Linked DNA regions of Homo sapiens. The protein of the gene in region 1 purifies or fractionates together with the protein of each later gene. This does not show direct contact. Each region holds a gene or a part of one and is shown in the gene's direction. Other genes may lie near its edges. The genes, in order: PARD6G, RASSF8, BRINP1, MARK4, CDH5 and RNF146.

The links.
Region 2: the proteins of PARD6G (region 1) and RASSF8 purify together in Homo sapiens (co-immunoprecipitation; one large-scale study listed by IntAct). This does not show direct contact.
Region 3: the proteins of PARD6G (region 1) and BRINP1 purify together in Homo sapiens (affinity purification with mass spectrometry, with the first as the bait; one large-scale study listed by BioGRID). This does not show direct contact.
Region 4: the proteins of PARD6G (region 1) and MARK4 purify together in Homo sapiens (co-immunoprecipitation; one large-scale study listed by IntAct). This does not show direct contact.
Region 5: the proteins of PARD6G (region 1) and CDH5 purify together in Homo sapiens (co-immunoprecipitation; one study listed by IntAct). This does not show direct contact.
Region 6: the proteins of PARD6G (region 1) and RNF146 purify together in Homo sapiens (affinity purification with western blotting; one study listed by BioGRID). This does not show direct contact.

Annotation. Positions count from the first base shown.
Region 1 is NC_000018.10:80,205,582-80,209,822, reverse strand, and holds part of PARD6G (partitioning defective 6 homolog gamma), read left to right. Parts: intron 1-4,241. UniProt on the Homo sapiens protein: Adapter protein involved in asymmetrical cell division and cell polarization processes. May play a role in the formation of epithelial tight junctions. The PARD6-PARD3 complex links GTP-bound Rho small GTPases to atypical protein kinase C proteins.
Region 2 is NC_000012.12:26,070,026-26,074,110, forward strand, and holds the end of RASSF8 (ras association domain-containing protein 8), read left to right. Parts: 3' UTR 1-2,844; downstream 2,845-4,085.
Region 3 is NC_000009.12:119,362,451-119,366,691, reverse strand, and holds part of BRINP1 (BMP/retinoic acid-inducible neural-specific protein 1 precursor), read left to right. Parts: intron 1-4,241. UniProt on the Homo sapiens protein: Plays a role in neurogenesis and brain development. May suppress cell cycle progression in postmitotic neurons by inhibiting G1/S transition.
Region 4 is NC_000019.10:45,303,111-45,306,365, forward strand, and holds the end of MARK4 (MAP/microtubule affinity-regulating kinase 4), read left to right. Parts: 3' UTR 1-2,174; downstream 2,175-3,255. UniProt on the Homo sapiens protein: Serine/threonine-protein kinase. Phosphorylates the microtubule-associated protein MAPT/TAU. Also phosphorylates the microtubule-associated proteins MAP2 and MAP4.
Region 5 is NC_000016.10:66,393,707-66,397,947, forward strand, and holds part of CDH5 (cadherin-5 preproprotein), read left to right. Parts: intron 1-2,352; coding exon 2,353-2,495; intron 2,496-4,241. UniProt on the Homo sapiens protein: Cadherins are calcium-dependent cell adhesion proteins. They preferentially interact with themselves in a homophilic manner in connecting cells; cadherins may thus contribute to the sorting of heterogeneous cell types.
Region 6 is NC_000006.12:127,273,022-127,277,262, forward strand, and holds part of RNF146 (E3 ubiquitin-protein ligase RNF146), read left to right. Parts: intron 1-4,241. UniProt on the Homo sapiens protein: E3 ubiquitin-protein ligase that specifically binds poly-ADP-ribosylated (PARsylated) proteins and mediates their ubiquitination and subsequent degradation. May regulate many important biological processes, such as cell survival and DNA damage response.

The DNA of each region.
Region 1 (4,241 bases):
TTGTATTTTTTGAGACAGGGTCTTACTCTGTCATCTAGGCTGGAGTGCAATGGTGCAGTCTCACTTCACTGCAGACTCCACATCCCAGGTTCAAACGATCCTCCTGCCTCTGCCTGCCAAGTGATTGAGACTACAGGCGTGTGCCACCACGCCTGGCTAATTTTTGTACTTTTCTGTAGAGACATGGTTTCCCCATGTTGCCCAGGCTGGTATCAAACTCCTAGAGTCAAACGATCCACCTGCCTTGGCCTCCCAAAGTCCTGGGATTACAGGTGTGAGCCACCACACCTAGCCAGATGCTGATACGCTTTTGCTTATTGATCTTGGTATTTTGTATTTGAGATAATTTTTAATAATTTTAAAAGATGAAATCTCCCCCAACCCCGTTTTTTACTATCCTGTTGTAGGAATAATAGTTGGGGTCAACTACAAAATAGAATAATCATTATCTAAATAATGAATGAGGGTTCATTTAGCTAGAAGCATTGAAGAATAAGAATTTGCACACCTGTGTATTTCCCAATAACAAATAATCTTATTCTTTAAAAATAAACATGGGATTCATAGGCTTACATACATTTCTTGCCATATACCTGGAATTAGCCATTTTGCCTCGGAACCATGGGTCCTTTTAAGGGGAAATGATACAGCTCATAGTGTCAGGGTACTGGTGAGGGAAAGGTGTGTTTTTTTTTTTTGTTTGTTTGTTTGTTTTCTTTTTTCGAGATGGAGTCTCACTCTGTTACTCAAGCTGGAGTGCAGTGGTGCAATCTTGGCTCACTGCACCCTCTGCCTCCTATGTTCAAGCAGTTCTCCTGGAGCACCCTCCCAAGTAGCTGGGACTACAAGCGTGTGCCACCACGCCTGCCTAAGTTTTTCTGTATTTTTAGTAGAGATGGGGTTTCACTATGTTGGCCAGACTGGTCTCGGACTCTCCCTTGGCCTCCCAAAGTGCTGAGATTACAGACATCAGCCATCGCTGGCCAATGTGGACTTTTTGATGGGGTTATCTATTAACTTGCTACTAACCTAGGCCAGGCACAGCAATGCAATCTTTTTTAGGAAATTTGATTTTTTTTTTTAACATAAACAAGGTCTTGCTATGTTGCCCAGGCTGACCTGGAACTCCTGGGCTCAAGTGATCCTCCTGCCTCAGCCTCCAAGTAGCTGGGACTACAGGTGTATACCACCATGCCTGGCTTGAGTATTGATCTTTCATTGAAATTGGTCACTGGTTTGGAGTGAGGAGATGACCTCCCGGGATAGGATGGCTCCCTTTGAGGCATTTTATGTGCGGGATAGTAGGTGAATGAATGAAGCCCAGCAGATGTTGAAGCAGCCGTCCTGTTGTAAGTCCTGCTATACGAACAAACACCCACATGAAAAACAATGAAAATATTAGGGAGTGCCAAGTCTCCTGCTAACCTTTAATGGTGGTTTAGGCATTTTCATAGTGATCCCTGAACTCTGATGTTGTGGTCTTCAAATGTCACATGAAGCCTGAAAGAATTTTGAAAAACTACCACTATAAAAGGGGATGATATATTTTTAAGTTGGTACCTGAATTTTTTTTAGTAAATATAAATAGTTTGCAAAGGATGTAATTTACAGCATGCTGTAAATATTCCATTACAAATAAAGTTTTTGGTGCATGATCTTCTAAATACAGCCAGTGAAATCTAAATGCTGCAGTGATTTGATACAGTGAAATCTAAATGCTGCAGTGATTTGATACAGTGAAATCTAAATGCTGCAGTGATTTGATACAGTGAAATCTAAATGCTGCAGTGATTTGATACCACTATCATGCATTTTAAAATAGGATAAACAGACTCTTATTTTTGCCACTTTTCTGACTCTGAAGAGCTCTTTTCTAATCAGAAATTATACATGGTTTCTTTTTCTCTTTGATTTCTTCTTCCCATTACTCCCTCAAGAGATTTTTGTCCTAATATTTTATTCTAATAACTTATGCTTCGTTACCCCTGTTACTCTTCTCTGCAACAAAAAATATGTATAAATTGAAGTTCAAATATTTTTCTCTTGTGGTCCTGGGGCTCTATTTGTTAAAAATATTTTTAAGTTGTTTACTAGTATAGGGTTCTAGCTTGCAAGATGAAAAGCAATCTAGAGAGTGGGTGCATAACAGTGTGAATGTACACTCCTGAACTGTACACTTAAAAAGAGCTAATATGGTAAATTTTATGTGTGTTTTACCACAATTATAAATGAAATAGATTGTTATAGTAAATTTCTAGATTGAGTTATTAACAAGTATTATCAAATGGTGATTGGAACATAGTTGTGCAATTTGATAATCACTAGCCATCCAAGTAAACATCTGAAGAATCTTTCGTTTACATTAAGTATTTATTGATAATCACTAGCCATCCAAATAAACTTCGGAAGAATCTTTCATTTACTGTTAAGTATTTATTGATAATCACTAGCCATCCAAATAAACATCGGAAGAATCTTTCATTTACTGTTAAGTATTTATTGATAATCACTAGCCATCCAAATAAACATCGGAAGAATCTTTCATTTACTGTTAAGTATTTATTGATAATCACTAGCCATCCAAATAAACATCTGAAGAATCTTTCATTTACTGTTAAGTATTTATTGATAATCACTAGCCATCCAAGTAAACATCGGAAGAATCTTTCATTTACTGTTAAGTATTTATTGATAATCACTAGCCATCCAAATAAACATCGGAAGAATCTTTCATTTACTGTTAAGTATTTATTGATAATCACTAGCCATCCAAATAAACATCGGAAGAATCTTTCATTTACTGTTAAGTCTTTATTGATAATCACTAGCCATCCAAATAAACATCTGAAGAATCTTTCATTTACTGTTAAGTATTTATTGATAATCACTAGCCATCCAAGTAAACATCTGAAGAATCTTTCATTTACGTTAAGTATTTATTGATAATCACTAGCCATCCAAATAAACATCTGAAGAATCTTTCATTTACTGTTAAGTATTTATTGATAATCACTAGCCATCCAAATAAACATTTGAAGAATCTTTCATTTACTGTTAAGTATTTATTGATAAATGAGGTAGGCTGGCACTAATTGTTTTGCAATTTTTATTGTTGGGTGTCAACACTGTGAAGCTTCATTTGCACACTCAGGTAGATGAGAGTGAAGGCCCCTAAGCACAGCTCAGTTCTTTGAACTCTCAACAGGTTGTGTGACAAAAATAATAGGGTGGTCTCTCAAAATTATTTTGATAATTAGCTGACAGTTCAGTTAGGACAACTTTATATTTTGTCAAAAGCAAGTAATTGGAAACTACTTGACTTGCAAGGTTTATTGCCTGGTCATTAGAGCCATTCACTGTTTCAGTTTCTGGTAAGTATACTGGAAGGACTTTACCAAGAAGTATGTGACAATGAATTATACCTGCTAATTCCTTCATTTAGAGGACTCTTGTTTAATCTGATATCATGGGGAAATAAAAATATTTAGTACCCAATACCAATATGATTTTTAAATACAATGCTTTTGTCATGTCACATTTCACATCTCTTTTTGTCAAAACTTTGGAGCTCATTCAACATATGAAGCATGTTTACCATATAGCTGGGTTGGCAAAGTCAGCCTCATCATTAAACACAAATCAACCTTGTTTTCTCTCAGGAAACAGTCTGAATTTATTTTTCATTTCAAGTTAACATGCTAAGACATATTTTGAGAAAATTATTGAACGTACTGAGAAACTGAGATGTGTTTTAGGTTAGTTGCTAAATAAAGTTAAGACTGAAACATTGTAGAACTAACATTTAGCCTATGCTGTTTCAGGGAGGCCTGGCGTTCCTGAGGTGAAAGTGAGCTGTATCCCTTTGCGGTGATACTGAAGTGAGAATTATATAAAATTCAAAAACACTCTTACTAGTTGCATTAGACATGATTAAATTATCTTATGTATTCAGTTAAACGAAAGCCATATAGTGATACAAGGAAATTGCTTTGGAAGTTGGTATATGTATTAGTCCATTCTCACATAGCTGTAAAGAAAGACTACAGACTGGGTGGTTTATAAAGAAAAGAGACTTAATTGGCTCACGGTTCCACAGGCTGCACAGGAAGCATGGTGACCATCTGCTCCTGGGACGGCCTCAGGGAGCTTTTACTCATGGCAGAAGGCAAGATGGGAGTAGGCATCCTACATGGCAGGAGCAGGACTAAAAGAGGGGGAAGGTGCTACACACTTTTAAAACA
Region 2 (4,085 bases), on another chromosome or scaffold:
TAGTGACTTAACTAAGATTTACAAGTAATATTTAGACAGATTCAGTCAGACACCACTTAGCCATTTTTACATTCCCTCTGGTTAGATTTGGTACAGTATAATTAAGACTTTAATCTGAAATTTAAAGTAGTTTTAATTCTGAAGAAGTTACATCCTCTGTATTATTTACATGCAACAAAATAAAAGTGGATTAATATAGTAATGCCATGGTAACAATAGAGCTATGTCTTATGCATGAAGGCAACTTTGGATGTTTTAACACATTTGACTGACTTTGGTTTAGTGAATGCTGACAATGCTGCTCTACTTAGGTTTCCTATGAAATTTTTAAGAATGGCTATGAGACTGTATAGAAGCTTCTAGAGAACTGAAAGTCATAATGCAGAGTTGCCTTTTCTAGTGCAGCTAAGTGGCGGACCTCAACTGAAGATATGAGTTTCTTTGGGTTCTTGGAGTTATCAAATTGATCTTGCCATTATGTTACTTTGCAAATAACTGAAGTAAATGATTCTTACCTAAATAACCACAACCTGTACACATTTGCTCACAATTTATAGTAGTTATTTTCTATCTACCTATATTTAAAATTAGGATGATTAAAAAATAATTTATAGATTTTGTGACAGTAATGATTTACATATGCCCAATATATGCCTTATTTTTAAATAAGTCATTCTGTATAAAGTCATTTTGTTGTTGTTCAGAGAAATCAAGATCTTATTCACAAAGAAAAACATTTTATAAATTGATCGCATTTTCTTTAAGTCAAAATGTTAAACTGGAGGCAGTATTAAACTTTGCAATTAGGAGTTTCAGAGATGCCTTGGCATACCACGAAAAACACTGTCAATATCCAACTCATTATAAATTGTTATCAGAATTAACCTAATAACTTTAAGTAAGGACAAGCAGCATCCTAGCAACTTGTAGTAGTCTTGGGTTCCCAGCAGAGTATCACAGTTAACCTCTCTGACAACTTCATCAGAATTTCCAAGCTGCCAAATAATCTTCATAGACCTAATTACAGATTTAAAAAAATTTCCTAGGCGACGAAAGTATAGAAATGTGAATATGTTGAATACATTGAGAAGCTGTACTTTTTAATTAGTTATATTACTTCTGGAAGCACATATCTAAGGAATATTTTCTAAGACTCAGAGGGAAAAAAACTCGTTTTCATAGGATCATCTGAAGATACTTTAGTATATTTGTGATCATTTTTATCTATTGCAAATACAAATGAATTAGATAAGTGCCACATCCTGGATACATTTCGGAGGGGTAGTGGGCAATGGTATACAAAAATACCAAATATAAAATTTTCATCTGGGGGAATGTTCAGGTTCTAAATACTAAATTAGATTTCAATGTTTTGTGTTTTTTTTAAAAAAATCATATTGCAACTTGTTTTATTGTGATTTTCTACAAGTATTAAATACATTTAAAGATCTTTTTATCTTACCAAGAAATAATTTGGAATAGCATTGGTATATTTGACCTTTTGAGTGTCTGTCATCCTCAGAGAATGGCCCATAGTGTGTTGCCTGTGGACATAGTGTCCATAGTCCCTTTCTTGTCCTTCTGAGATATTTTGGTTTGATAACATTTTGTTTTTTGTCTTGATGCACAGGGACTTTTTTATAATATGAGACTTCAGTTGGTATTAATAGGAGTTACCTATTTAATTCTCCCAGTCATCAATGAGGTAATCATCAATTCCTATAGTTCAAATTAGTCATAAACAAGAGCTACAGCAAGACTGATAGAGTAAAAACTATATAAATACAGTAAAAAAAAAATAGAATTTATGGTGTGAAATATGAAGTATAGCAATATATAACAAGAACATGTAAGCACTTGCTTCCACAGCATAAATGTAATTTACATCTGCATTAAAGGATAATTTTCTCTGTGAATAAGAGCAAAATGGTCTTCAGAGAAACAGACTGTTCATTTGAAGCCATTTCTGTAAACATCTTCCAAGATAGAACTGTAATGGATTGAGGAAATAACACAGAAAAGACAAAAACTTTTGATTTCAGGCATGCAAAGTGCTTGGGCAGATGGACAGTTCCCATTGTGCATTGCCTTTGATAAATTTGGCCTTAATTTATATAACGATGCTGTGTTCACATCCCTCTCCTACCTAAAGTTGTCTTTATTGGTTTATATTGTGTTAAAATTAGCTTATAATTATTACTTTTGTATTGTGTTCAGTTTTTTAAGTTGCATGTTTATACTATTTGCTACAGTATTTTTAAGTTTGGGGTGAAGGCCATCAGCTGTATCAAAAAGACAAAACAATCACTATTTATTCAGTATTGCTGCTTTACATCTCCAGAATAAGCTTTCGATGCCAGGACAGTGACTGCCTGAAAGCTGCAGGAGCTCTTTTCAATGCATTTTATATATTTTTAGAAACCAAATAAATGCAGAAAACTATTTCGTATACTAATTATATTAAACCAGCAGAAATATAAAGGCAATAAAGTATATACATATATATGGGGGGAGGGGAAAGATTAAAAAATAGATTTACAGCCAGACATGGTGATAGCCCTAAATGTATTTCTCAATATGTTTTTCTTTATTGACCCTAGGAGGATTTGAGTTGCTGCAGCTTTAAACAGAAAATTGCCATGTTCACTAATTGTGAGCACATAAATATGCTTTTAGTACTGCTTTGCTTATGTACAAATAAATCTGTAATATGTATTATATGTAATTATCCTTTTCTTTGACTTTCATTTTAAATGTATATTTTCTGATCATTATGAGCTGTAAAACAAAGAATCAATATTGGATATTCTCCCAAATAATAAATTTTCAGGATTCATTGGGGCATTACAGTTGTCAGTTTGTTTCTTACATCCTTTATATTTTTAAATACAATTTTACTTCCTTTAAAAGATACCAAAGAGAATAGTGGCACATATCACTACACATAATTACATTTTTCATATATACTTAAAGAATCATCTACTGCTCCAAAGATGGCTTCATCAAAGTAAAACTGAATTAAGAAACTACTATGCCTTTTATTTCAAAAGTGAAAGAAGAAATGATATCTTAATGAATCTCTGTATTCCCAGATTTCCCTAAAACCATAAGTGAGAGGAAGAGAACTAACATTTCAGTCCCTACTACGTGCCAAGTGCAATATGGGGCACCGGTCACACTTTAAACATTCACAGCCATCCAAGGAACTGCTCCTAAATCACACAACCCCTAAGTAACTGACATAGCATTTGAACTTAGATGTTTCAGACCTCAAGGCACTTTTCTGTATTCCATGGTAGAGATGCATGAGCTTTACGGTGCCCAGTTTCTGCATTTTAACCACTTTTTAATGTGGAAGTATATAAATTGTCATTTTTATAGGAATATTTTTATAAGAAGTTAAACCTTTACTTAGAAATTATACATGAGGGCCGGGCGCAGTGGCTCACGCCTATAATCCCAGCACTTTGGGAGGCCAAGGTGGGCAGATGACTTGAGGTCAGGAGTTCGAGACCAGCCTGGCCAACGTGGCGAAACCCCGTCTGTACGAAAAGTAAAAACAAAATAGCTGGGCGTGGTGGCGGGCACCTGTAGTCCCAGCTACTCAGGAGGCTGAGGTGGGAGAACCACTTGAACCCGGGAGGCGGAGGTTGGAGTGAGCCGAGATCGCACCACTGCATTCCAGCCTGAACAACAAAAGCGAGACTCTCTCTCTCTCTCTATACACACACACACACACACACACACACACATATATATATACACATTATGTATACACACACATATATATACACATACACACACACACACACACACACACACACATATATATATATTTAGCCAAAGTAGTATTTATTGAGCCAAAGTAAATTTCCTAGTAATTTCAACTTTCTTTAGGGCCACATAGAAGAAACAATTTCCCATCTATATATATAGAGAGAGAGAGAGAGTCTCACTCTAAAAAAAAAGTATATATATGAGAATAATAGTACGTTATAAAAGCAAAGATGAAATGAGAAACTTAAAGTCATTCAAAATACCAATAAGTCCTAGTTTGGGGGACTTTTAAAATGTTAATTATCCAC
Region 3 (4,241 bases), on another chromosome or scaffold:
CCTACCAAGACAATCGCTTGTCTTCCCTCATCAAACTTCACATTTTCAGAGATGCATTTCAGGGTTTTTCTATCTGGAAACATGGCCCTGAAGAGAAAAGATCCAATGCCTCAATCACTATTCCCGAAAGACACACACACACACACACACACACACACACACACACACACACACACACACACACACACGGTGGTGGGGGGAGGACTGAGAGAGAGACAGAGAGAGAACATAGATTCCTTCTCCAATGTCTTTAGGGAATTACCGACAAGCAAGGACCCAGTACTGAGTGTGACTGGTAGGCAGAACCCAGCAAAGTGTCTGGTCTGTATCTAAGATTTTTATTAAGGAATGCACTGGTTTCCAGAGAGCAAAATGTACACCCATCTACCAGTGCAAATACTTCAGGCAAATTAATTTCTTTATATTAATTAGAATCTCACCCCTAGACATTAATACATATTACAGGCACAGAAGCATATGCAAGCACACATGCATAGGTGTGCTTATACACACATGTGCACACAAAGATCCAGAAACCTTTCCTGCTTGCTACATTTCCAAAAAAGAGAACCTCCACACCAAATTGTGTTCTCCCATATAAAGCATCTCCCATGTGAAGAGTAGGACCCATAAACTCCAGGGAAGGAGAAATGTAAAGCCCTGTGAAAGAGAGACCCTGGAGAAGTCAGAATCGAGTTCACTCAAAAGCGTGCTCTTAGACTTCTAGATGCCTGTTTCGGGGTGCAGGCAGATACTGAAAAACATGGGGGTTTTAGGCCCATCTGCAATAGAGCCTTTTCCATGCAGGATTTTCCGGGGCTAGATGGCACTTTAGCTCCCAGAAGGGGGAGCTGTGACTCCATTTCAACCAAGGAGAAACAGCTCAGAGATGCCAAATCAGCTCTTGGGCCCCCGTTGAGTTTAGACGACCCAGCTCAGGCTGCAATGAGTATCTTTGCCGCTGGTACAGGCAAGAATTGTAAAAACACCCTCCCCTGATAGGTTCGAATTCAACATCTCTTTCTTAGTGCTTGCAAGAGTTTATGTTATGGATCATAAAGTCCTCTATTTTTCTGAAAAGGTCTTTGCCCAAAGGCCCCTTCAGTTGTGCAAGGAGACATTTTTTGATTTGCAACCTGTCTCTTTTCCCCTCCCAATTCCTTAGAGGAAATCACCAGTACATTATCACTTGAATGGGCCATTAAGGTTAGACATACCCTACCCGTCTTTTCCTGCTTTTCCCTTGCTGAAATACAAAGCTTAACAAATTGGCTGCTGAACTACTGGTAACCATGTTAAAGACAAGATGGAGGTCATGTGAAGAAGACAGGTCCTTAAATGTCATTCTTCAAATAATTTTTCCAGTTGTGCTCCCTTCTGCAAAGATTATCTTTATTATTCTTTCCACCATCTCCCACATTCAGCCACGACTTTTAACAAAATTCCACCCATATTTCAACATCTAGCTCAAATGACCCTTCCAAGAAGTCTTCTCAAGATCTTATTTTGGAATTAATCTCTTTATCACCTGATTTTTCTGTACCATTTTATCTGAAACTCTATTTTAGTTTGTGTCTCTGTTTGCCCTGCTTTATAGCGCTGGGGGTATAGGTCTATCTTACCCTCTTCAGTATGGTCTCAGGAGCATCTTTGTATTCCAGGGACTGACACAGAGTAGTTGCTTTATAAATGTTTGCCCTTGCATTTCCTGTTGCATCTCAATAGCAACTGTCATCTCTCTCTCTGTCTCTCACACTTTCTAGCTAACAATTGCTTCATGTTCATTTAAAGCAATGCCGTTACGGCATTTTTGCCTATACCAAGAATATGGGGATTCCAATGATAATATAGACAGATGAAAATTAGACCCTACCTGGAAGTGAATATTGACTTCCTGTGTTCCAGGGTCTTTAGTTTTGTTCTCTCATGTAGTCGTTCTTTCCACCCAGTGGGACAGATACAGCCCCTTTTACAGAAGAGGAAAGTGAAGCCCAGGTTGGTTAGACTCCTTGATCAAGGTCACACAACCATCACAGCTAGAATTTGAAACTGTCTTCCTTCTTACGTCATCTCTGCTCTTTTCACTGGACCACTGAGTTAATGGTAACTATTATGAATGGTTGGCAACATCGGGTTGTTCAATAGGTGCTAGGAATAGCTGGGAGTTATTATGAGCTCTTTGAAATTGATGGTATGAAGGTGTCATGAGTCACTGGATCAAAGAAAACCTCTGAAGGTTTCTCAATGACCAAACTTTTCTGTTTTCAGGAATGACGAGTCCTTTTTGTAATGCCAATAATACATGACCATTCAGTCTCAGTTTTAGTACTTTTAGTGATAGCAAGTTCATTACCGCACAAACCAGCCTATGTCATATTTGAAGAGCTTTGTTGGAATATTTTCTTACTTTGCCCCTAAATCATCCTTCTATCCATATGTCTCTGAAATCACACAAGTGCAATTCTCTTCCAGTTTTCAGTTCTTCGAATATTATGAAAACATAATTATTTCACAACAGTTTTCTTTCTGAATAGAGGGGATTGTCTTCACAGCCCTGTCTTCTGTAGCATCTGCTTGGAGGCCTCTTGGCACCCTGAATACTGTCCTAGGGAAATTGTCTAGTTTACCTCACTTTTAGGGCTTCGATGCCACCAAAAAAAAAAAAAAAAAAAAGGGAGGGATGACCTGAAATTGAGTGAGGATTTATTCAACAAATATTTATTGGGTGCCTACTGTTTGCCAAACATTGCTGTAGACGAGAGCTGTCAAATAGAACTGTCTGTGATGATGGACATGTTTTTTGTGCTGTCCAATATGGTAGCCACTAACCATGTATGATTGCTGAACACTTGAAATGTGGCCAGTGTTGCTGATGAACTGAATATTTAATTTTATTTAACTTATATTAATTTTTATTTTAATTTACATAGCTATATGTGGCTCATGGCTACTCTATTGAATAGCACAGGTCTGGGCTTTAGAAATGTAGCATGTACATGGCCATGGCCTTGTTTGTTTTCATTAAGTTCACACTCTAGAGGAGCGAGATGAATAATCAATGAGTAAACAAATAGATAAGCAAGATAATTTTATATAATATTAAATGTCACACCACTAGTCGTGGTAATGTGGTAGAAAGGAATGTGGATGGTATAATTTTCGATTGAGTAGCCAGGAGAAGCCTCCTCTGAGAAAGTGATGTTGGAACTGAGGCTTAAATGAGAAGGAATCAGCCATGTAATTTTGTGGGGAAAGAGCATTAGAGGCAGAGAGAAGAATAAAATGGAGTTGGCCAGGCTTGGTGGCTCATGCCTCTAATCAAAGCACTTTAGGAGGCTGAGGTGGGAGGATCGCTTGAGCCCAGGTGTTTGAGACCAGCCTGGGAAACATAACAAGACCCCATTTCTACAACAATAATAATCATCTTTAAAAAAACAGCTGGGCACCTGTAGTCCCAGCTGCTCCGTAGGCCGAGGTTGGAGAATCACTTGAACCTGAGAGGTTGAGGCTGCAGTGATCTGTGATTGCACTACTATACTACAGCTGAGCAAGCAGCAGAGTAAGACCCTGTTTCAAAAAACAAAACAAAACCAAACAAGCCACGGAGTCATTTCACTGGGACAAGCTTAGGAAGTCTAAGAGATGGACTACCTGCCAGTGTGGCTGAAGCTTTCAAATTGGGAACATGACATAAAAGGGAATTAGGAAGGTAGGCAGGGGCAGATCACAATGGCCTGTACAGGAGAGTGAGAAGTTTTGACATCTTTTCCTTGACATCTCTGGTTGGAAGGCAGGTAGTTTGAGGACTAAAGAGAGTTTGAGAATTGACAGAAGGTCATTGTCAAGTACTTTTGATGGGTTTTTATTATGTCCATTTTTAATCAGTAATTTCTACAAGTTTTCTCATTTTAATTTCTACTCCTACTCTGAATGCCATACCCTGGAGATACAACAGTGTAAAGTGAGGAGGAGAAACAAGAGTAGGGGAAATGGATAGAAAAGGAAGGAGAGAATGAATATGTGGGGATAAAGTAATTTAAATGAAGTGTTGTGAAAAAGAATGAAAGCTGGAAGTTTTCAGTTTGGATCAGCAAATATTTATTGCATATCTTGTCGTGGAAAGGCTTTGGACAAAGTGACTTGGGGGGTATGGTGATGAATCTTGCTAGGTGCTGGCAATCTAATAGTACCGATCTGCAAATCTATAAATAATTATCATTCATGATAGATTGATAATTGTC
Region 4 (3,255 bases), on another chromosome or scaffold:
TGGGAGTGGGGGTCAGAGAGGCAGATTCCTTCCCCTCCCGTCCCCTCACGCTCAAACCCCCACTTCCTGCCCCAGGCTGGCGCGGGGCACTTTGTACAAATCCTTGTAAATACCCCACACCCTCCCCTCTGCAAAGGTCTCTTGAGGAGCTGCCGCTGTCACCTACGGTTTTTAAGTTATTACACCCCGACCCTCCTCCTGTCAGCCCCCTCACCTGCAGCCTGTTGCCCAATAAATTTAAGAGAGTCCCCCCCTCCCCAATGCTGACCCTAGGATTTTCCTTCCCTGCCCTCACCTGCAAATGAGTTAAAGAAGAGGCGTGGGAATCCAGGCAGTGGTTTTTCCTTTCGGAGCCTCGGTTTTCTCATCTGCAGAATGGGAGCGGTGGGGGTGGGAAGGTAAGGATGGTCGTGGAAGAAGGCAGGATGGAACTCGGCCTCATCCCCGAGGCCCCAGTTCCTATATCGGGCCCCCCATTCATCCACTCACACTCCCAGCCACCATGTTACACTGGACTCTAAGCCACTTCTTACTCCAGTAGTAAATTTATTCAATAAACAATCATTGACCCATGCCTACTCCATGCCAGGCCCAGTGCTGGACACAGAGACATGAAGCTCTGTCTGTGGGAGACAGGGATTCTGACACAGACACCGGACAAACCATTGTCTTGGGGAGCCCAGAAGAGAAAGTGGGCAGGGTGGGGTCATTGGGGAAGATGCTCTAGAGGAATTAATGCTGGAATGGGGTGTTGAAGGATGAGTAGGAGTTAGTTAGGCATTGAGTTTGCCCTGGGCAAAAGCCCAGAAGTGGGAGTATGTGGTATATCTTCAGAGAACTGGGTAATTTCAGTGTGGCTGCTGTGTTGGGCATGGATGGAGAATCAGCAAGAGAAATGCTGTATTAGGACTAATAATCCATCTACGCTGCTTAAGCAAAAAGGTATTTGTTGGTTTATGTTACTTAATAGTCCAGGGGCACCTGGCTTCAGGTAGGTTTGATCCAGGCATCAGGCCATTGCATCTATTTTTTCAGTGTAAGTTGAATTCTAGTAATTTTTATCAAGTAAGGGCTCCTTTCCTGGTGGCACAGATGACTTCAGCAGTTAGAAGTTTCTATCCCTCCAGCTTTCTGCAGCAGAAAGACCCTCATTGTCAGTTTCCCAGCAAAAGTCCCAGGGCAGACTCTCATTGGCCCAAATGGGCCATGTGATTTTCTCTAAACCAATCACTGTGACTCTAGAGTGGCCAGACTCAGAGCTGCACTTAGTAGGGGTTCCTCAAAGGAAGGTCAAGTGTCATGAGCAGGAGAAAAGGCATGGGAGCTGGACAGATTATAGTGGTTGAAGTCTGTGCAGTACAGAAGGGCGGAGCTTATTCACACAGCACCTTTGGGGCCAAAATGAATAAGCTGGACTTTCTCCCCATGGCACTGGGGAACCATGGAAGTTCAGGGAACTTCAGGGAAGAGGCTTGGTCAATTCCTGAGAGCATCCTCTGTGCTGGGGACACAGTGGTAATCAAGACAGCCCCAACACTGCCCTCATAGAGCTCACAGTCCAATGGAGGAGGCAGATGTGTCCTCAGGCAGCGACTGGGCAGGGCTGGTATAGGGGAGTCCAGAGGTGATGCCTGCCTCAGCCAGGGAGGGCTTCCTGGAGGAGAAGGAGCCAGCTAGACATGGATAGGAGTGCGTTTTAGGCACAGCAAATGGCACATACAAGGGCCAGGGAGCAAGAGAGAGGACAGGTCCTCAACAAATGGCATGTGACTTTGTAAGTGTAGAATTGCTGTGAGGTATGGGGCTAGGGGCGTCAGTAGGGCCTTGAAGGTTATGGACAGGGGCCTGGGCTTTCTTCCAAGGGCACTGGGGGAGCCATGGCAAGGTTGTAGGTAGGGTAGAGATGGGCGGGTTTGTGCTATGTGCAGGGTGGAAGGGAGGGAAGTTGACAGGTCAGAAGATCAGGAAAGAGGTCGGGGCTGGACAGATGGGGAGAGCGCAGATAGATTTAAGAGAGTCCTGTGAGGCAAAGTGGGCAGGACCTGGTAACAGGTGTCTGGACTGTGGCTTTGGCTGGCTCAGAAGGTCCCCACTGGCGTGTGTGGTCTATGTAGCCTCTGGGTGTGGAGCTGGGATCTTCAACTGGGGACAGTACAGTAAAGAACATCACAGCATCTCACAGGTTCTGCATACCTTAATGTTTAGAATCTCTCCTAACCTTCCTTGTAGTAATCTCCCTGGGAACTTTTGGGGACATCCCTAGGCCTCAATTTCCCCTCTGTAAAACAGAGGGCAGATTGAACTACAAGGGCCCTTAATCTCTGTGACTCTTGAGGTTTGAAAAAGCACCTTAGGTTCCTGAGGGCTTTGTCGGTTCTTCCATTTACTCCCACCTCACTTTTTTTTTTCCCTAAAACGTTTGTCTTTTGGGGCCCACCGACTGTGTCCTTGTTAACGTAGACATTGGCCTGTTTGACTGGGTGGAGGTGATTGACGTGCCCAACACCCAATGCATGTTCAGCTACTGCTTGACTTCTATTAACTCTTCTCCCTCCACCAATTGCTCTACCACACCTCTTTCCTGTTCCTTCCTGGGACTGAGTTCTCCAAAAGGCCTATCCCTAAAGACTTCATGGGGATGCTCAGACTCACAGATTGGAGAGGGAAACAGCTTGGTCAAAGACATTGAGGTGGGAATTGGAGGGTGTCAGGTGTGAAAGAATCAGAGGAGTAATGGGGAAAGAACTGGAAAGGTGAGCCTCCAGCAAATGGTATGCATTTCAGTGTGGCCTTGAGTTGCAAAATAACAGAAAAGCTTTCTAGGAGAAATGGGGAGCCATGGCAGGTTCTTGAGAAAGTAAGGGACTGGCAGCAGCTACAGAGGGATGAAGTCAGACGGGACAGAAGGAGGCCACTGAGAAGCAGAATATAGGTAGATGTGACGAGCTGCATGGGAGGTCTCAAAACTGGAGACCGTTGGGCTAAATTCAAGTTTCAGACATTTCGTTTGGCTGCATTCCTCCCCAGCGTGGACCTCGTGTTTGAGATCTGAGCATGACTAATTCAAAGCCATAGTTGGAAAGGGCCCATGCTTTGGGTGAGTGACACTGGGCTCAGTGTCTCTCTGGGTCTCAGATTCCCCATAGAGCCTTCTAATTTTTGGACTAGATTCTGTGACCTAACTTTGCCTCATTTTAGACCCGGGATAAGACATGTTTAGTACATGCCTAGACAGGACAAACCACTCTGAGACCA
Region 5 (4,241 bases), on another chromosome or scaffold:
TTCCCATGTTGCTTTTTTATTTGATATAATTTTTTGTCAACTCTCATTTTTTCTTTTGTGAAATTTAAAATTTTGTATCCAGGTTTTTTAAACATTAGAATTCTAGTGTTTATATATTAATTTTGGTATAGCTAATGTTTCAAGGGTATTAAGTCTTCTTATTAAGGACAAAATATGTTCTTCCATTTTGGCCTCATATCCTAAGTTTTGGGACTACTCTTCATTGCCATTCTTTTCTAAATAGCCTGTAATTATAATTTTTGTTTCTCCTTTGATCCAAGGGTTTATTTAAGAGATTGACTTGATTTCTTTATTTTCATTTATAAGTCATAGGGTGTTTTTTTTGTTTTGCTTTAGCTTGTTCTGTGATGTGATACAATTGTATTTGTGTCCACTTCTTCCTAGAATATCTAAGTTTTGACTTTATGTATTTAAATTTTTCTATTCAGTTAACAAAGGTTTGCAACTATTTTACCTTCATTATGGTTTGTAACTTTCATCCAAATGTAATTAGCCAATTTGTTCTGCTTAAATATTTTGCCTTTAATTCTGTTTCCTGATGTTACATTTGTTAGTCCTGTTTTCATGTTATTCATATACGCCTAATGCAAATTTTACAACCTTTACTTTTAATTTTTCCAGGTCATTTGGCATTAAGTTGTCTCTTGAAAACAAGAATGCATTTGGCTTTGCTTTTTAATCTAAACTGAAATGCTTTGTGTTTAACCTATTTACATTTTTCATCATAATTGATATGTTTGATGTTCCTTCTTTTATCTTGTTTTACATTTCTCATTTATCAAATTTAATGGCTTTTTTCTTTTTCCTCATCTTTGCTATACAGTCTATGTTTCTTTATTTTTTTTTTCTCCTAGATATTTGGATGAGGTGCATCCATTTTTATTTCTACCAGTGAGATTTACTTCTATCTGCAAAATTTAAAATGTTTTCTTGGACCTATATTTTCTAGTTAAAACTATTATAGACATACACACACCCATTGCTTTTCTATGTATGATAAAAAAAATCAATAGTTTTGTTTTAATTCTTCCCATGCCAGGTTTTTACTTTATATTGAGATGTTTAGTTAGATACAGTAAGTTTTCAAAAAAAAATTCAGGACACAAATATCTTAGTTCTTTGCCTTTTTTGGGGGGTGGGGGGGACAGGTTCTTCCTCTGTCACCCAGGCTAGAGTGCAGTGGCACAACCATAGCTCACTACAGCCTTGAACATCTAGGCTGAAGCAACCCTCCCACCTCAGCCTCTGAGTATCTGGGACTACAGGCACACACCACCACACCAGGCTAATCTTTTTTTTTTTTTTTTTTTTTTTTTTTTTTTTTTTTTTTTTTTTTGGTGAGACAGGGTCTCACTCTGTCACCTGGGCTGGGCTGGTCTTGAACTCCTGGCCTCAAGCAAACCTCCAGCTTCAGCCTCTCCCAAAGCACTCAAATTACAGATGTGAGCCACCATGCCCAACCTTGCCTTCTAATAACACCTAGATGTATTCGTATAATCCTCAGATTATAAACACTTCCCTTCAAAAATACTATCAATGTATTCTAGTATTTAATTTTGTGGGGGCATCTGAGGCAAATCTGATTTTTCTTTCCTCATAAGGAAATTATTTCTTTCTGTCTGGACTCTTTTCAGTTTCTTCACACAGCCTTGAAATTCGTAAGTGTCGTCAGGATTTGCCTAAGTATTGGGGTTTTTTTCAATGATGCCTGATGTCAATGACATCTTATAATGTGTAGACTCAAGCCTTTCTTCAGATCAGGAAACTTTTCTTTTCTTTTTTTTTTTTTTTTTTTTTGTTATTTCTTCTGTTCTGTTTGTTCTGGGATTTTCCTCATTAATAGCAACTATTATTCCTATATACACAAAACATATATATTTATCTTTCCATAGATTTTTCCTGATTTCTGAAAGAACTTTTTAAGTTTTTTATTTCACAAAGTTAATTTCTTTGTAATTACTTCTTATCTCTTCCAGCTCTTTTTGTATTCCTTCCTGGCTCTTGCCCAATGATCTTTTCATTAATCACTAAAACAAGTCCCAGCTATGGTGTGATGTCACCTGTTCAGCTCTGAAAGTGCATCTGATGGTCTCAGGTACCACCTCCAGTCCAGTGATGGCAATGTAACTAAGATCAAAGACATTATCTTGCTATCCTGAATCCCTCTGTGTAGGTCCACTCTTGTCTGAGTGGCAGAGTGCAATGAGCAGTGAGAGAGGGGCATGGAGTGGGATGCAGGGGACAGATGCAGAAGGGCCTTGTCCATCATGCTGAGGAGTGTAGACTCAGCAAAGAACAATGGAAAGCCATGAAACTCTCTCCCCTGGGCAGATACTCCATCCGCAGGACCAGTGACAAGGGCCAGTTCTTCCGAGTCACAAAAAAGGGGGACATTTACAATGAGAAAGAACTGGACAGAGAAGTCTACCCCTGGTATAACCTGACTGTGGAGGCCAAAGAACTGGATTCCACTGGTGAGTGGCCACATCTGCCAGGGCACCTGGATTCTTTTCCTTTTCCCTCATTCTTCCAAAACTGGCATAATCAATAATTTGGGGTCTCTAGACGTATTAGAAGTGCCTGCTGAAGCACCCGCTGGTTGGGATGCTATAGAGCTCCCATGCCCAAGTGTGGTCCTTGAACCCAGCAGTATCAACATCCCCTGAGACCTTGTTGCATCTCGGGCCTCACCCCCACACTGAATCGGAATCTCATGCATGTCACAGTTTGAAAACCACTGTCATGAAACAGGCTGTGCAGATGTCTCTGTGACGAGAATCACCCAAGTCACCTATTAAGCATAAAGCTCTACTCCACCCTGCAGGTTCTGGTCCAGTGAGCCAGAGATGTGCATTTAACAAGGGTCCCATGATTCTTAGTTATCATGGCTGTTTGGGAAATGTTCCTTCAGAGGGTGTTTATGCACCAGTTAATAGGTAGAATTCAAAATGTGAAGCAGCTTCCAATTTTGAGATTGTGAGTTTCTCTAGAAATTGTGTAATTTTTGCCAGAGGGAGGGGCAAGAGTTGGAGTTTTGCATCCTCTATCTATATTAGAAAATCACAATCACCCTCCAGGAGAACTATTAATACTCCCACTTTACCCAGGAGCCCGCTAGGCCAAGGATCCCTGGCGCCTGCCGGGCCCACCCAGACTCACTTCTGCCAACACAGCTGCTGCCCCAAACTGTAATGGACTCCTGCATGTTTGGCCAGATCAGTCTTTGCTTCTTTCTCCTCCACATAATCCCATTCATAGACTCTTTACATTTAAATGGTTTAAAATACGGAAAATACAGAAAATGAGAAGAAAATACTCCTCCCACCAATGCCACCATGCAGAGACAGTTACTATTAGCACATTCATGTATTTTTATTTTTATACATATTTTTATACTTACATGAGATTGTAATGTTTGTGTAAGATATTATATTCCACATTTTTACTTAACCTTTACTTAACCTTATTCCAGAACCACTTTCTCATGGTACTAATTTTTTTTTTAAGAGAGAAACAGGGTCTCACTCTGTTGTCCAGGATGAAGTGCAGTGGCACGATCACAGCTCACTGCAGCCTCTAATTCCTGAGTTCAAATGATCCTCCCACCTCAGCCTCCTGAGCAGCTGGGACTACAGGCGTGCACCACATTGCCCAGCAAATGTCTTAATTTTTTTTGTAGAGATGGGGTCTCACCATGTTTCCCAGGCTTGTCTCCAACTCTGGGCCCCAAGCAATCCTCCCTTCTAGGCCTTTCAAAGTATGAAATTACAGGGGTGAGCCACAGCACCTGGCCTTAAAATTTTTTTTAATTATATGTTTAAGATGTAAGTGACATAGGCATTGTCAGTGGCCATCCATTTCAGTCTTTTCCGGTAGCCTAGTTTACTGACCCAATCTCACTTAGGTTGTTTACCTTTTCAATTCTTTTATGATTAATTTATTATGTTTTATGTATTTAATCAAATAATTAAATTTTTAATTTTAGGAATTTAATTACAATTTTTTTAATGCACTTAGGTGGTTTACCTTTTTGATTCTCATAATCAAAGTAATACCTCAGTAAACCTTATGGATGAGATTTAACACCTCCCCCCACCAAACTCCTTTTATCCAGAACACCATCCTGGGCCTCTGTTCCACAGCCTCCTCCTGCAAAAAGTGGCCTCCATAGGGCAGCCCTCCTTCCACACATCTTCCACCGCCCAAGGCCAGCATCAGCT
Region 6 (4,241 bases), on another chromosome or scaffold:
CCATCTAGGGTGTGTACCAGGTAATTTAACTTCTTGTAATGGCATGACTTCTTGGCTTCTTGGGAGCACTTCTAGCATCACTAGTGGCACTTCACATGGGTCCCATGGTGTTATTCAAGGTTTATGGTATTGTACTAAACATGATGAAAAATACACAAGAACAAGAGATTACATTTTACTCCAATACATGCAGAGATGATTAGTGTCCACAGCATTTTAAGTGGAAATTCATAATAGCAACAGGAAATTATTACAGTATGTACTACAATTAATTTTATACAGCTATGATTCATACTGCATCTTTACATTTGTTTAAATTTCTTGTACCACCTCAAGTGGCACCATATGTGTCTGTGTTTACTAAGTTTTGATACACTTTAACTTCTTATAATTTCTCTATATTTTATAATACTAAATGATAAAATAGACTATATATGTTTTATGCATTCATAATATACCTAATTTTTTCTTTTCCTTTTTTTGATGTTTCAAGACTACATGATTCATCTGCAAGTTTTTTCAAATTGTCACAAATCTCCAAAAAAATTTCCAACATATTTATTGAAAAAACTGTATGTATATAAGTCAACTTGTTCATTTCCAACCTGTGTTGTTGAAAGGTCAGCTGTATGAGGTTATCGTCAAAGATCTTTAAAGAAAGAAATGACATCATCAATATTTTGAAAATTAGAGAAAGCCATTTCTAAAGGAATCCTAGAAATGACTTCAGGCCAGAATTAGAAAAAAAAAAATTGAAGAAATAGGCTAAATAAATATGTCTTTGGCTGTGTTCTTTTGAAAATGGCATTAATGTATAGAAAGATACTCGAATGTGAGTTATGGTCACTGATACATTCTTTTGTTTACTGCTGAACATAACTGGACTAGAGGAGTGTAATGAGGGCAAGGATGTTCTTTCTGTTGAAGGAGAAAGTTTATATTGATGGAAAGTCATTATTCATAGATACTTTGCTGTTATTTCAGTACTATTAAGTAAATAGTTCTCTGCTCCTGGGTTTGTGTGTGTGTGTGTTTTCTTTATAAGGGGCTTTTTCAAATAATTTTGCTATTGATAAGTTACTTGAATTTAATCATTAGTCTTCAAATAAGGAAAGCAGAATGAGAGAATGCATCTCCTTGAATTAACCAGATTTTTTTTTAGTACCTTTGTTCTAGTGGATATGTAGCAAAGCTTTTACTTTAATATTTGTGGCTATAGCTTTATTTCAGCTATGTGAAATAGTTTTATAGGAAAGATCACAGCTTATTTGGGTGTTCAAATATGGGTTCTTTAGAGGATTTTTTTGTACTTATTTTGAAGCTGCTTTGTTTCAGTTAACTTAGATTCCTTTAAGAATCAACTTTTGTTTCAGAGATAAAATATTTATGGATAAGACCTAAGTAAAGTAAGTGAATAGAGAGGAATAAATTAGATTGGTTACAGATAATGTGTAAATGCATTCAGGAGATAAGGAGAATTAGAAACAAGGACATTTTTTGTGTATTTCTTAGGAATAAAATGGTACCTTCTACACATCTCAATTATTAAAGTACAAATAGTGATTGAACGAAATTTTTAGAAGAAATGTTTTAATTGAATCTTCACACTAGAGGTTTTACCATTCAATCAATTAGGTTCTGAGAAGGATGGATTGGTACATCTTAAAAGACTTGTAAGATAGCGAAGGATAGGCAGTGCTAATGACCAACAGCAACACTCAGCAGGACTTTGTGGACCAAAAAACTTCAAGTTAGAATTGTGGGTAAAGGCTGGGCATGGTGGCCCTCACCTGTAATCCCAACACTTTGGGAGCCTGTGGTAGGAGCATCACATGAGGCCAGGAGTTTGAGGTTTAAGTTACCTGCAGTCATACCACTGGACTCCTGCCTGGTTAACAGACGCTGTCTCTTAAAACAAAACAAAACAAAAGAATTGTGGGTAAAGTAAGAGCAAATTGACTTTTGAGTGATGGTCCGAAAACCTTTGTGATGGGTAAAGGGTAGAATGTCTGTATAATTTTTCTGAACTGGAACACTTGTTGGGAGACCAAGGGCAAACTGGATAGATGCTGGGCTGACCTATGTGGTCATCCTAGTGAAGAATCATAAGCTTTATTGGGGAAAGAGCTTTGTGAAGCTGTTTTGGCTGTTCAGAAACCCATCTTGGTTTATGCTTAGATTTTTATCTCCATTTTGGAGAATTCATTGACAATGAACAATAGCTGGGTAAATGATTTGCTTGCCAAAAGATACAAAGATGGGTTGAATTTTATATTTGTAAATGTAGGAACTCCTTTAGATTTTAAGTTATATAAAGCAAGGATTAGAACTTAGATATTTTTATGTATCTTACAGATTCCAGCTTGAGTTCACAATTAGAACTCAAGTGTTGTGTTATTTGAATAAATCTAATCCTTTGATATTCTGTTCCTCACAATAGTTACTTTTAGGAGTTGATTTTTCATTCATCCAAAAAATATCAGTTCAACAAAAATTGATTGACAATTTACTAGCTATTTAAAGATATAAAAATCTCCCTATCTTCAGGGGATTCATGATTTCACAGAAGAGTCAGACTTCACAAATGAATTGAAATTAGTGCATGTGATAAATTCCGTAATAGAAAAACATACAAAACATAGAGGAGAGAACAGTTAACTTTCTGGAGGTAGTCAGAGAAAATGGTAGAGATAACCATTTCTGTGTAATATATTAAAGAACAAATAGGCATTCATAAGCTGTAAAAGGGAATAGATCGTACCAGGCAGGAGGAAATACAGAGCTACAAAGGGAGGTTTGCAGGACTATGAGTAATTTTATACAACTAGATTATTAATCTATGGGTGGTTGTTGAAGATAAAAAAGACTAGAGACTAATTATTTACAGTTTAGATCTTTAAAACCTTTTAATGTTGTCCTAAGGAGCTTTGTCTTTATTGTGTAGGCTGAGGACCCAATATTGTGCTTCACATATGGAAGAAACCTGGTCCATTTTGCCTTTTAAATATATCAGTCAGTCCTAGCTACTTGGGAGGCTGAGATGGGAGGATCGCTTGAGCCAAGCAGTTTGAGGTTTTAGTGAGCTATGATCATGCCACAGCATTCTAGCCTGGGAAACAGACTGTAGAGTGAGTGTATGTGTGTGTGTGTGAGAGAGTGAGAGAGAGAGAATCTCACTCAAAGGCTTAATAAATGAGGGTGATACTGACACAAGATAATCAGGCTGAACAATAGTCCAGGTGAGAGTTATGTAGGTTTAAACTAGGGCACTAGCAATGGGTAGAGAGTACAGGATAGATTCCAAAGGGATTAGGAATAAAAGTTGACAGAATTTATGGTGTGGTTGGTTGGGGTGGGGGAGCAGGGGGCTGTGTGGTGAGAGAAAGGACTTTCTCTTTTTCTCCATGAACACAAAGTAGTTAAGACATGAAACCTGAGATGTCATATTGTAAGAATTATGCAGAAATGGGGGTTTGTAAAATGTGTGTATATGAGATAAAGATATGAGGGGGCCAAGGGTTCTGTTAAGAAGTAAAAAAGATTGGGTTCCAGAATGGGCAGGAAAGGAAATGAGATCAGGAACTGGATAAAGGAAAGGAGATGGTCAAGAGATGGTAGGTCCCCATGAAATTGAAGAGCAGGTGTGGGAATGAGTAGGCTGGAAGAACCAGAGCTTGTGATCTGAGAGTCGGATTAAGATTTCAGAGAGGCAGCAGTTTAGGTGACAACTAGCTTTAAATGTGATTATAATATTTGGTTGCTGGAGAGTAGATTAATTTCTTCAAATTTAGGATTTAAGGAACTGAAAATTGAGGATGGTGTTTCTCAGATTGTATTTGAAGGACTAAAGCATGAGTACCACCTGGGGTGAGATTCCTAGGTTTAAACCTATGTCTACTGGCCTAGAATTTCTAAGGAAAGGGGCTGAGAATATGTATTTCTAACAAGCAATTTCAGTGATTCTGATGAATAGAAGTTGGGACAAGTTTAAGAACCTGTGCAATAGGTGTTGGATGGTTCATTTTCAAGGCTATTTAAATAGGCTGATAGTCATGTCAGGAGTTAGGATGAAGAGGATGATCAGTAGTGAAAAGATGACATTAATCCCTTACAGGTGGTGAGAGAGCAGTTTTAGGGGATTATGGGGTATGTTAAAGTCAGTGTGATAGAGACTTGAAAGAAAAAGTAATGATGTTGGAGCAGTAAATTGTCTCCTCCTGTCCTATATATAGGGAGTGTAT